Regions from separate parts of the Homo sapiens genome. Here region 1 is linked to region 2. The links come from fine-mapping of genetic effects on gene expression. Tissue or cell type: whole blood. Region 2 holds a variant in brackets; the other region holds the start of a gene. All regions are shown on one strand. Distances are between the middles of the regions. Region 1 holds the start of FOXRED2 (FAD dependent oxidoreductase domain containing 2). Region 2 overlaps FOXRED2 (FAD dependent oxidoreductase domain containing 2).

What was found.
Region 1: it holds the start of FOXRED2, and the variant in region 2 is fine-mapped to the expression of FOXRED2 in whole blood (INTERVAL, PIP above 0.99). The same link has a PIP of 0.9 or more in skeletal muscle.

Annotation. Positions count from the first base shown.
Region 1 is chr22:36,505,060-36,509,439 of GRCh38, reverse strand. FOXRED2 (FAD dependent oxidoreductase domain containing 2) reads left to right here and starts at 2,400. Exons shown (of 9, transcript NM_001102371.2): 1 at 2,400-2,431; 2 at 3,017-3,544. The coding sequence starts at 3,018. RefSeq lists a silencer at 2,154-2,653.
Region 2 is chr22:36,483,424-36,487,803 of GRCh38, reverse strand. FOXRED2 (FAD dependent oxidoreductase domain containing 2) reads left to right here. Exons shown (of 9, transcript NM_001102371.2): 9 at 1-614. Among named protein-coding and RNA genes, the nearest start is that of TXN2, 4.0 kb to the right of the region's middle. The variant AT/T (reference allele first, on the strand shown) is at 1,858.

The sequences.
Region 1 (4,380 bases), 22 kb before region 2:
ACACCACTGCACTCCAATTTGGATTACAGAGACTCTCAAAAAAAGCTCAGCATTTCTAAAGTTACAGGTTTTTTTTTTAAAGTAGCTTGAAAAAACACAAAATTAATTTTAATGAATCGAACCTCAGCAAGCAAAAGGTTTCTTGAACTGTGTTAGAAGCAGTGGAGAGAAAAAGTGTACTTGGGGAGTTTTCAATGTGAATACAGAGTGTTAAAAAACAGATTAAAGTGGTGTGACTAGTGCCGGGGGTTTCCAGGTTGGACCAGTATTCACCAAATTGCCTCTTGCAAACCATGGCCCTGTCCAACAGGATTAACAGAAGCAAGTGGAAGTGACTCAAGCTCATTCCCTGAAAATACTTTGCATCAGTTTCCACTGCCTTTTTTTTTTTTTTTTTTTTTTTTGAGACGGAGTCTTGCTCTGTTGCCCAGGCTGGAGTGCAGTGGCGCAATCTCAGGCACTGTAAGCTCCGCCTCCTGGGTTCACGCCATTCTCCTGCCTCAGCCTCCCGAGTAGCTGTCCACTGCTTTTATCTGTCCTGCATGGGGCTACCAAGTTGACTGCTGCAGTAATCCTACATTCAGAAACTCCCAGTAGCATCCTGTTGCTTACAATCTAGGTTCAGCCTACTCGTAGGGCCCTACCATACTTGACGAATTCTGTTTAATTTCCCACTACTGTATTCACCACATAAGACCAGCAATTATTTTAGGAACTTGTTTGCCAGCACCCATTCTCATAATCTTCACAACCACTAAGAAACAGACATCCCCAAATTGCATGACTATCAAAACATCTCATATGCCCCATAAATATATACACATATGCCCCCAAAAATTTTTTTGAAAAATTGGCCAGGGGCCATGGCACACACTTGTAATCCCTAGCACTTTGGGAGGCTGAAGCAGGATCGCTTGAGCCTGGAAGGTCAGGGCTGCAGTGAGCCATGATTGTGTCACTGCACTCCAGCCTGGGTGACAGTGAGACTCTGTCTCAAAAAGAAGAAATAAGACATCCCTACTTTATTTTTGGCAAAGTATTCTGCCTGACCTCTCTGGTTGCAATGCTTATTCAACAAATGCTTAAACTTCCGTATGTCAGATACTGGACAATTTCTGCTCTGAGGGAGCTTTTCTCTGATGTTGACACAGACTGAAGAAAGTAAATGACATTCGGCCAGGCGCGGTGGCTCACGCCTGTAATCCCAGCACTTTGGGAGGCCGAGGCGGGCGGATCACGAGGTCAGGAGATCGAGACCATCCTGGCTAACACAGTGAAACCCTGTCTCTACTAAAAATACAAAAAATTAGCCGGGTGTGGTGGCGGGCACCTGTAGTCCCAGCTACTAGGGAGGCTGGGGCAGAAAAATGGCGTGAACCTGGGAGGTGGAGCTTGCAGTGAGCCGAGATCACGCCACTGCACTCCAGCCTGGGCGACAGAGTGAGACTCCATCTCAAAAAAAAAAAAAAAAGAAAAAGTAAATGACATTCTTTGGTAGGTACTTGTAGGCCTGAGAGGTCAGGAAAATTTTTCTAAGGAGTCCCCAGCTACGATTTTTAATTCAAAGAATCTCCAGCCATGCAAATCTGCAGGCTCGCAGTTCTTTCCACCTGCCCTTCCCCCAAGAACACTCAGCCCCATTTCACTGGACTTTGAAGGTTCCTACACTGACTTCGTATTTCTCCCCATGTAAATCTCATGCAGGGGCCACTTGCCACCCCTGGGAAGCCAACCTTCATCATCCAGTTCACGTTATCTTCCTCCTGCCATTTATCTTGCCTCCACTGAGTTTTAATTCCAGGCTCCACTTCCTGTGATTGTAAACATATCCCTTCATCCCTATGTCTCCATTTGACCAGTCAGCTACCAAATGTCGGAAACAATGCCTTGCCCACCTCTCCTATTTGGTGGAAGATTAGGACAGTCGTGTATGTTACTTGGTAAGCAGTACACTGAGTCACTGTAGCAAACGCTTGTTAATTGGCTTATCGGTCCTGGCTCCACCACGCTGGTTTCCAGTCCCACAAAACTGGGTAGGCCAACTAGTTTTAGCGTTTGGCTACATTCATGGAATATGAGAGCTAGGATTAGCTCCAAAAATCACGTGCTCCCCTCCCTCCGTGTAGAGAGGCACCTTTTAAAACGAAGGACCCAGTTCCCCATCCCGGATCTCCAGACCTTCCACCCTCGCGGGTGCGCGCTAGCCCCAGGCCCCTCTACCAGCCCCCGGAGCAGCGAACGCAGCACGCGCGCGCCTCTCCCGCGCTGGGCCGGAGCAGGCAGCCTGCCAGCTGGTCCCGGCGTGCCGCGCGCCGCGCACGTGACCCCGCCCCCTGCCATTGGTCCGGGCGCGAGGGGCGGAGCCGCCGCGGAGCAAGCGAGCCAAGCGCGGCCTCATTAGACCACGGGTTGCAGCCGGAGCGGCTGGGAGGTTCGCGCGTTTCTCAGGGTTCGGTCGGAGGCGGGGAGGCCGGAGCTGCGGGCGTAGGGACCTGGCGGCTCCTGAAGCGCACGCGGGCGGGCGGCAGGTGTGCGCGGCATCCCTGTCACGTGGCCGAAGAGCCTGGGGCGCGCGGACCCTGGCAGGGGGCGGGGCGCACGCAGGCCACACCCACTTCAGGCTCCCACCCGGTCGCTGGAGAGGGGCCAAGGCCTCTGGAAGGTCCAACCTGGAGGGTGGTTCAAAGGGGTGTTGGGCACCCTCAAATTAGGGGAAAATTGGGGAGTACGCTCTCCTTCCCCAGGGTGGAGGTTACTACAATCATAAGCGGGGAGCCGGTGCCCCTGAGGAAGGAGACCCTGAGGGAGATAAGATGGAGGGGCTCGGGATTCCGGGGAGCCCCAAGTCCCAGCTTGAAACGGTGGAGTCCGGGCAAATGAGCTCTGAGGACGGCTTCTGGGCCTGGCCGTGACCCAGATTGCAGTGAGAGTTCCCGCAGGCCCCGCCTCTTTCTGGGCCTCGTGTCTCCCAGCCGCCGGGCCGGGTGCGAGGCCTTACCCCTCTGATCTGCTGCAGGATGGGCCTCTCCGCTGCGGCCCCGTTGTGGGGTCCCCCGGGGCTGCTCCTGGCCATCGCCCTGCACCCAGCGCTGTCGGTGCCCCCGCGCCGGGACTACTGCGTGCTGGGCGCTGGGCCCGCGGGCCTGCAGATGGCCTACTTCCTGCAGCGCGCTGGACGCGACTACGCAGTGTTCGAGCGGGCCCCGCGGCCCGGCAGCTTCTTCACACGCTACCCGCGGCACCGCAAGCTCATCAGCATCAACAAGCGGTACACGGGCAAGGCTAACGCCGAGTTCAACCTCCGCCACGACTGGAACTCTCTGCTCAGCCACGACCCCCGGCTGCTCTTCAGACACTACTCGCGTGCCTACTTCCCCGACGCCCGCGACATGGTGCGCTACCTGGGTGACTTCGCGGACACGCTGGGGCTCCGTGTCCAGTACAACACCACCATCGCCCACGTCACTCTGGACAAGGACCGACAGGCCTGGAATGGCCACTACTTCATCCTAACTGACCAGAAGGGCCAGGTGCATCAGTGCAGGTAAGGCCGGTGCCAGAGCTCACCTGCGGAAGCTGGGACCTTCCCCACACGAACCACACACCTTGATTGGCCAGTAGGTATGGGAGGAATGGACGAAAAAGGGTATTTCGCTTTTTTTTTTTTTTAAGACGGAGTCTCACTCTGTCGCCCAGGCTGGAGTGCAATGGCACGAGGTCAGCTCACTGCAACCTCCGCCTCTCTAGTTCAAGCGATTCTCCTGCCTCAGCCTCCCCAGTAGCTGGGATTACAGGCAAGCACCACCACACCCGGCTAATTTTTTTATATTTTTGGTGGAGATGAGATTTCACGACGTTGGCCAGGCTGGTCTCGAACTCCTGACCTCAGGAGATCCACCCACCTCAGCCTCCCCAAATGCTGGGATTACAGGTATGAGCCACCGCACCCGGCCTTCAATTCTATTTTTGAAACCACTCTGTGATCAAAGCATTCTTCTGCAAGCCGGCAGGATCCAAGTCCCCAGCTGCCCTCCCCTGGATGGCGATCCTCACCAATGGAAGGAGCAGGACTTTGGAATCAAGCCTATCTGTGTTTAGACTCTGGCTCTGCTGCTTTTAGGAGCTCTCAAGCCATGGGCCTGCAGGGCCTGTGCCTCCTCACCTGTAAAGCAGGCCACATACCACCTCCAGGTTGCTTGGAGGAGTCAGAAAGATGGTGCACAGATACACTTAGTACAGGGCCTGGTACAGAATTACTGCTCAGTGGATAGATGTATCTGTCAGAGGACTCAGAAAGGGGAAAGTAGAATGTCAGGTTTCATTTCATCACCAGCAGTCATACCTGGTCTGACTGCTATGTGCAAAGTTAGGTGAATTCTC
Region 2 (4,380 bases):
AGACTTTTTAACTACCTGGCCCCACTGCAGACACAGTTCCCTCTAGTCCTTCCCAGAGTTACAAGAAGAGAACTCCAGTAGCCTTATTCTGTCAGGGACGAATTGTTTACCCCATGATAATGTAGGATATCATAAATTCTTCTTCAAAGGTTTTAGCCTGTAATTTGTTAAGTACATTGAGTTCTGAGATCCTCTCCAAAGAACCAATGTATCAGTATGTTCAGCTCACCTGTTCTTTGTTCTTCATTTTAACTTTTAATTTCCTCATTCTTTATGTCTCCTTGCCCCTAGTTTCAGTAAACAATCCCCTCCTAGCCTCTGTCACCTGCTCTGACCTGAGTCACCTTTAGTCACCTGGTCCGTAACCATCTTTCCTGTCTAAACTTCTCACCCCACCACTCTGGCTTATACCCCTGCTCTCTTTAAAATAGCCAGTCAGAATTAGCTTAGATTGTGCGGTCCAACCCTAGCCCATAGGGGAACAACACAGCAGTAGGGGGTACCTGCATCAGGGATAAGAACCCATTCCCCTCCCTTGTTCCGGTGTGCTCTCGCCATTGCACCATCCATGAGACGCACTCTTGTATAGAAGTAAAATTGCCTTGCTGAGAAAATGTATGTTTGAGTGCTATTTCTTTTGTGGCACTGAAAATTTATTTCTAACAAATTTGGGGTCTCATTTGGGATTCCCATCCTCCTCTGAGGAGGGTCTAGACCTCTCCCATGAGGAGGCACGTCCCACTGCCTTGTTGCGGTGGCCACAGGGGTAAGGAATCGAGACCAACCAGTGTGACGAATAAACCTATACTCTCAGCAAGGCAGAAAGAAACGGGCTGGCGACCTGGGGGAAAGGATCCTCATGTACCACAGCGACCAAGTAAGTGTGCAGAGACCAAGCTAAGAAACATCGCAGGGGTGACAAAGTATTTCCTTGGTGGTCAGGATATTCTGGGGGTTGAAAGTGTGCATGAATGCAAGGAGCCTCCAGCAGGTGGGGCTAAAGGATAGGCGAGACATCTCCAACAGGGGAGATTGAGCTTAACCAGGACCCAAGATGGGAAATGCCCCAAGTAAGGTAAGAGATAAAAAGGAGAAAGCTAGCAACAGTAATATTCCCCCAGGCCTAATGTTAAAATGTTAGAAGGATAATGAAAGGACCAAAAACAAAAGCAGCTGCTGTCCCAGACCCTTCTCCTATCTCTGATGTCCCCTTTCTTACAACCCTGCCTCTTGAGAATCGTCCCAAGAGCCCACTCACTACCGACCTAAGTACCTTTCCCTTAAAGGACTTCAACGTGAGATAGAGCAATGTAAAAAAGATATTCAGAATTTCCCTTTCCCCTCTTCTCGGGGGAAGAAAGAGACATGATCCATAGAGCTGCTATGGGAGCCTAGGAACACGAACACCCTCCTGGCCAAAACGTTCCTACAGCAGATCAAAAAACTCCCACCCAAGACCCCCAGTGGGACAATAACAACGCAGCCCACCGAGAAAATATGCAGGACCTTAAGGAATTGATAATAAAGGGGATTAAAGCATCAGTACCCCGAGGCTGGGCGCAGTGGCTCACGCCTGTAATCCCAGCACTTTGGGAGGCCGAGGCAGGCAGATCACAAGGTCAGGAGATCGAGACCATCCTGGCCAACACAGTGAAACCCCGTCTCTACTAAAAAATACAAAAAAATTAGCTGGGCATAGTGGCAGGCGCCTTTAGTCCCAGCTACTCAGGAGGCTGAGGCAGGAGAATGGCGTGAACCCAGAAGGCGGAGCTTGCAGTGAGCCGAGATCACGCCACTGCACTCCAGCACTCTAGCCTGAGCAACAGAGCAAGGCTCCATCTCAAAAAAAAAAAAAAA[AT/T]TGGTACCCCGAACTCAGTATCTTACCCGAATATTTGATATACAGCAAGGGAAAGATGAAGGGCCTATAGAATTTTTAGATAGATTAAAGGAACAAATGAGAAAATACACTGGTCTAGGTCTCAAGGATCCTCTTGGGCAGGGAATGTTAAAACTTCATTTTGTCACTAACAGTTGGCCAGATATTAACAAGAAATTACAAAAGATAGAGAACTGGAAAGATAAACCTATAGAAGAGCTTCTAAGAGAAGCCCAAAAGGTATATATAAGAAAAGATGATGAAAAACAAAAGCAGAAGGCAAAAATTCTGCTGTCTACCATACAACAAAGTACCCAGGGGGCCAGAACCTATAAAGAACCTAGACTGAGGGCTGGGCGCGGCGGCTCACGCCTGTAATCCCAGCACTTTGGGAGGCCAAGGCGAGCGGATCACGAGGTCAGGAGACCAAGACCATCCTGGCTAACACGGTGAAACCCCGTCTCTACTAAAAAAAAGCAGCCGGGCATGGTGGTGGGCGCCTGTAGTCCCAGCTACTCGGGAGGCTGAGGCAGGAGAATGGCGTGAACCCAGGAGGCGGAGGTTGCAGTGAGCCAAGATCGCGCCACTACACTCCAGCCTGGGCGACAGAGCGAGACTCCGTCTCAAAAAAAAAAAAAAAAAAAAAAAAAGAACCTAGACCCCCACTCTCCAGGCAATATATAGAGTATGAAAGAGTAAAGCCAGGAGACTCAAAAGTAAAGAAAAAAAAAACTTAGAGGAGAGAGAAAGACTGACAGAACAGACAGAGTCAAAGAGAGAGAGACAGGCAAAAAGGGAAAGAGAGAGGCAGAGAGAAAGGCAAAGGGAGAGAGTCAAAGAGGAAGAGAGAGGCAGAGAGAGAGGCAAAGAGAAAGAGTGAGAGAGAAAAAGAGGCAGAGAGGGAGAGGCAAAGGGAGAGAAAGAGGACAAAATAAATGTTTCAGATTAAAAATAGGTCACTTCAAAAGAAAATGTCCCAAATGGGAAAAAGAACAAAAGTCATATATAAAAGCAAATCAGCTAATATTAAATTTCTGTTTATTCCAGAGGCAGGAACAAACCTATTAGAGAGATTTAATGCTAAAATTTGGCTTAGGCCTCTATATTAATCAGGGAAGATTCCTCCCCTCCCTAAACTTGCTCCCCACCACAGACAAAGAACTCATTCATCCCAAGGTATGGTCAAAAGACGAGAATCGAGGAAAGTTACAGATTACTCAGTTTCATGTTAAATTACAAACCCCTGGGGAAGTAGTAAAGAGAAAGCAATGTATCCTATTCCTTTCAAAGCCGAGGTAAATTTAAAACCTATAATTGATAATTGAAGGTCTTCTCCGTGATGGATTTCTTAAACCCTGTATGTCTCCCTATAACATTCCAATACTGCCTGTAAAGACGCCAGACAGGTCATACCGGTTAGTGCAAGACCTTAGAGCTATTTTTTTTTTTTTTTTTTTTGAGACAGAGTCTTGCTCTTTCGCCCAGGCCAGAGTGCAGTGGCACTATCTCGGCTCACTGCAAGCTCCGCCTCCCGGGTTCACGCCATTCTCCTGCCCAGCCTCCCGAGTAGCTGGGGCTACAGGCGTGTACCACCACGCTTGGCTAATTTTTGTATTTTTAGTAGAGATGGGGTTTCACCATGTTGGCCAGGCTGGTCTCGAACTCCTGACCTCAAGTGAACTGCCCGCCTTGGCCTCCCAAAGTGCTGGGATTACAGGTGTGAGCCACCACGCCTGGCACCATGTTTGTTTTTTTAAAAAGCAGATCACCACCCACTAAATTAATTTTGCAAACCCACTGACGTCCATATCCTGCAGTTTGAAAAACACTGCAATAAATATTGGTAGGAGGTAGAAGTTTTACCCTTAGCCCAGGCTGCCAGTCCTGGCTTCCTTCCCTTTGCCTCTCAGCTGTGCCCTGAGCCTGCTTGTGACTAAGCCAGACCCAGGCCAGCTCAGCTCTAGCTGGACAGAGGAGCCACCATGTAGCTGAGAGCCCTTTTGTAGCGCGCCGAGAGCTCAGCCTTCTCTGTGTCTCTCAGGCTTTCCCTGCAGGAGTCATCAGGCAGCAATGATGTGGATTCTGTCTCTACTGCAACCCTCAGCCCAGCTATGAGAAAGGCATTCTTCCCATTGCTCAGATGAGAAGCCTGAGGCCGATCAGGGTGAAGTGACTATGGCATAAGGACAAACAGGACTGGTCCGCCTGTGAAATTCAGAATGTGAATTAGGCAGGAAAATTGGCTCTCTAGAAAATACTGTGGAAGTGCTGAATAGGATTGATAGGTGGCTGTGGAAAAGAAAGTGCTAGAGACACAGAAAACCGATACAAAAATGGGCAGGGCGGCCAGGCGCGGTGGCTCACGCCTGTTATCCCAGCACTTTGGGAAGCCGAGGCGAGCGATAACTTAAGGTCAGGAGTTCGAGACCAGCCTGGCCAACATGGTGAAATATAAAATTTCTGTACCAAAAATATAAAAAATTAGCCAGGTGTGGTGGTGCTCG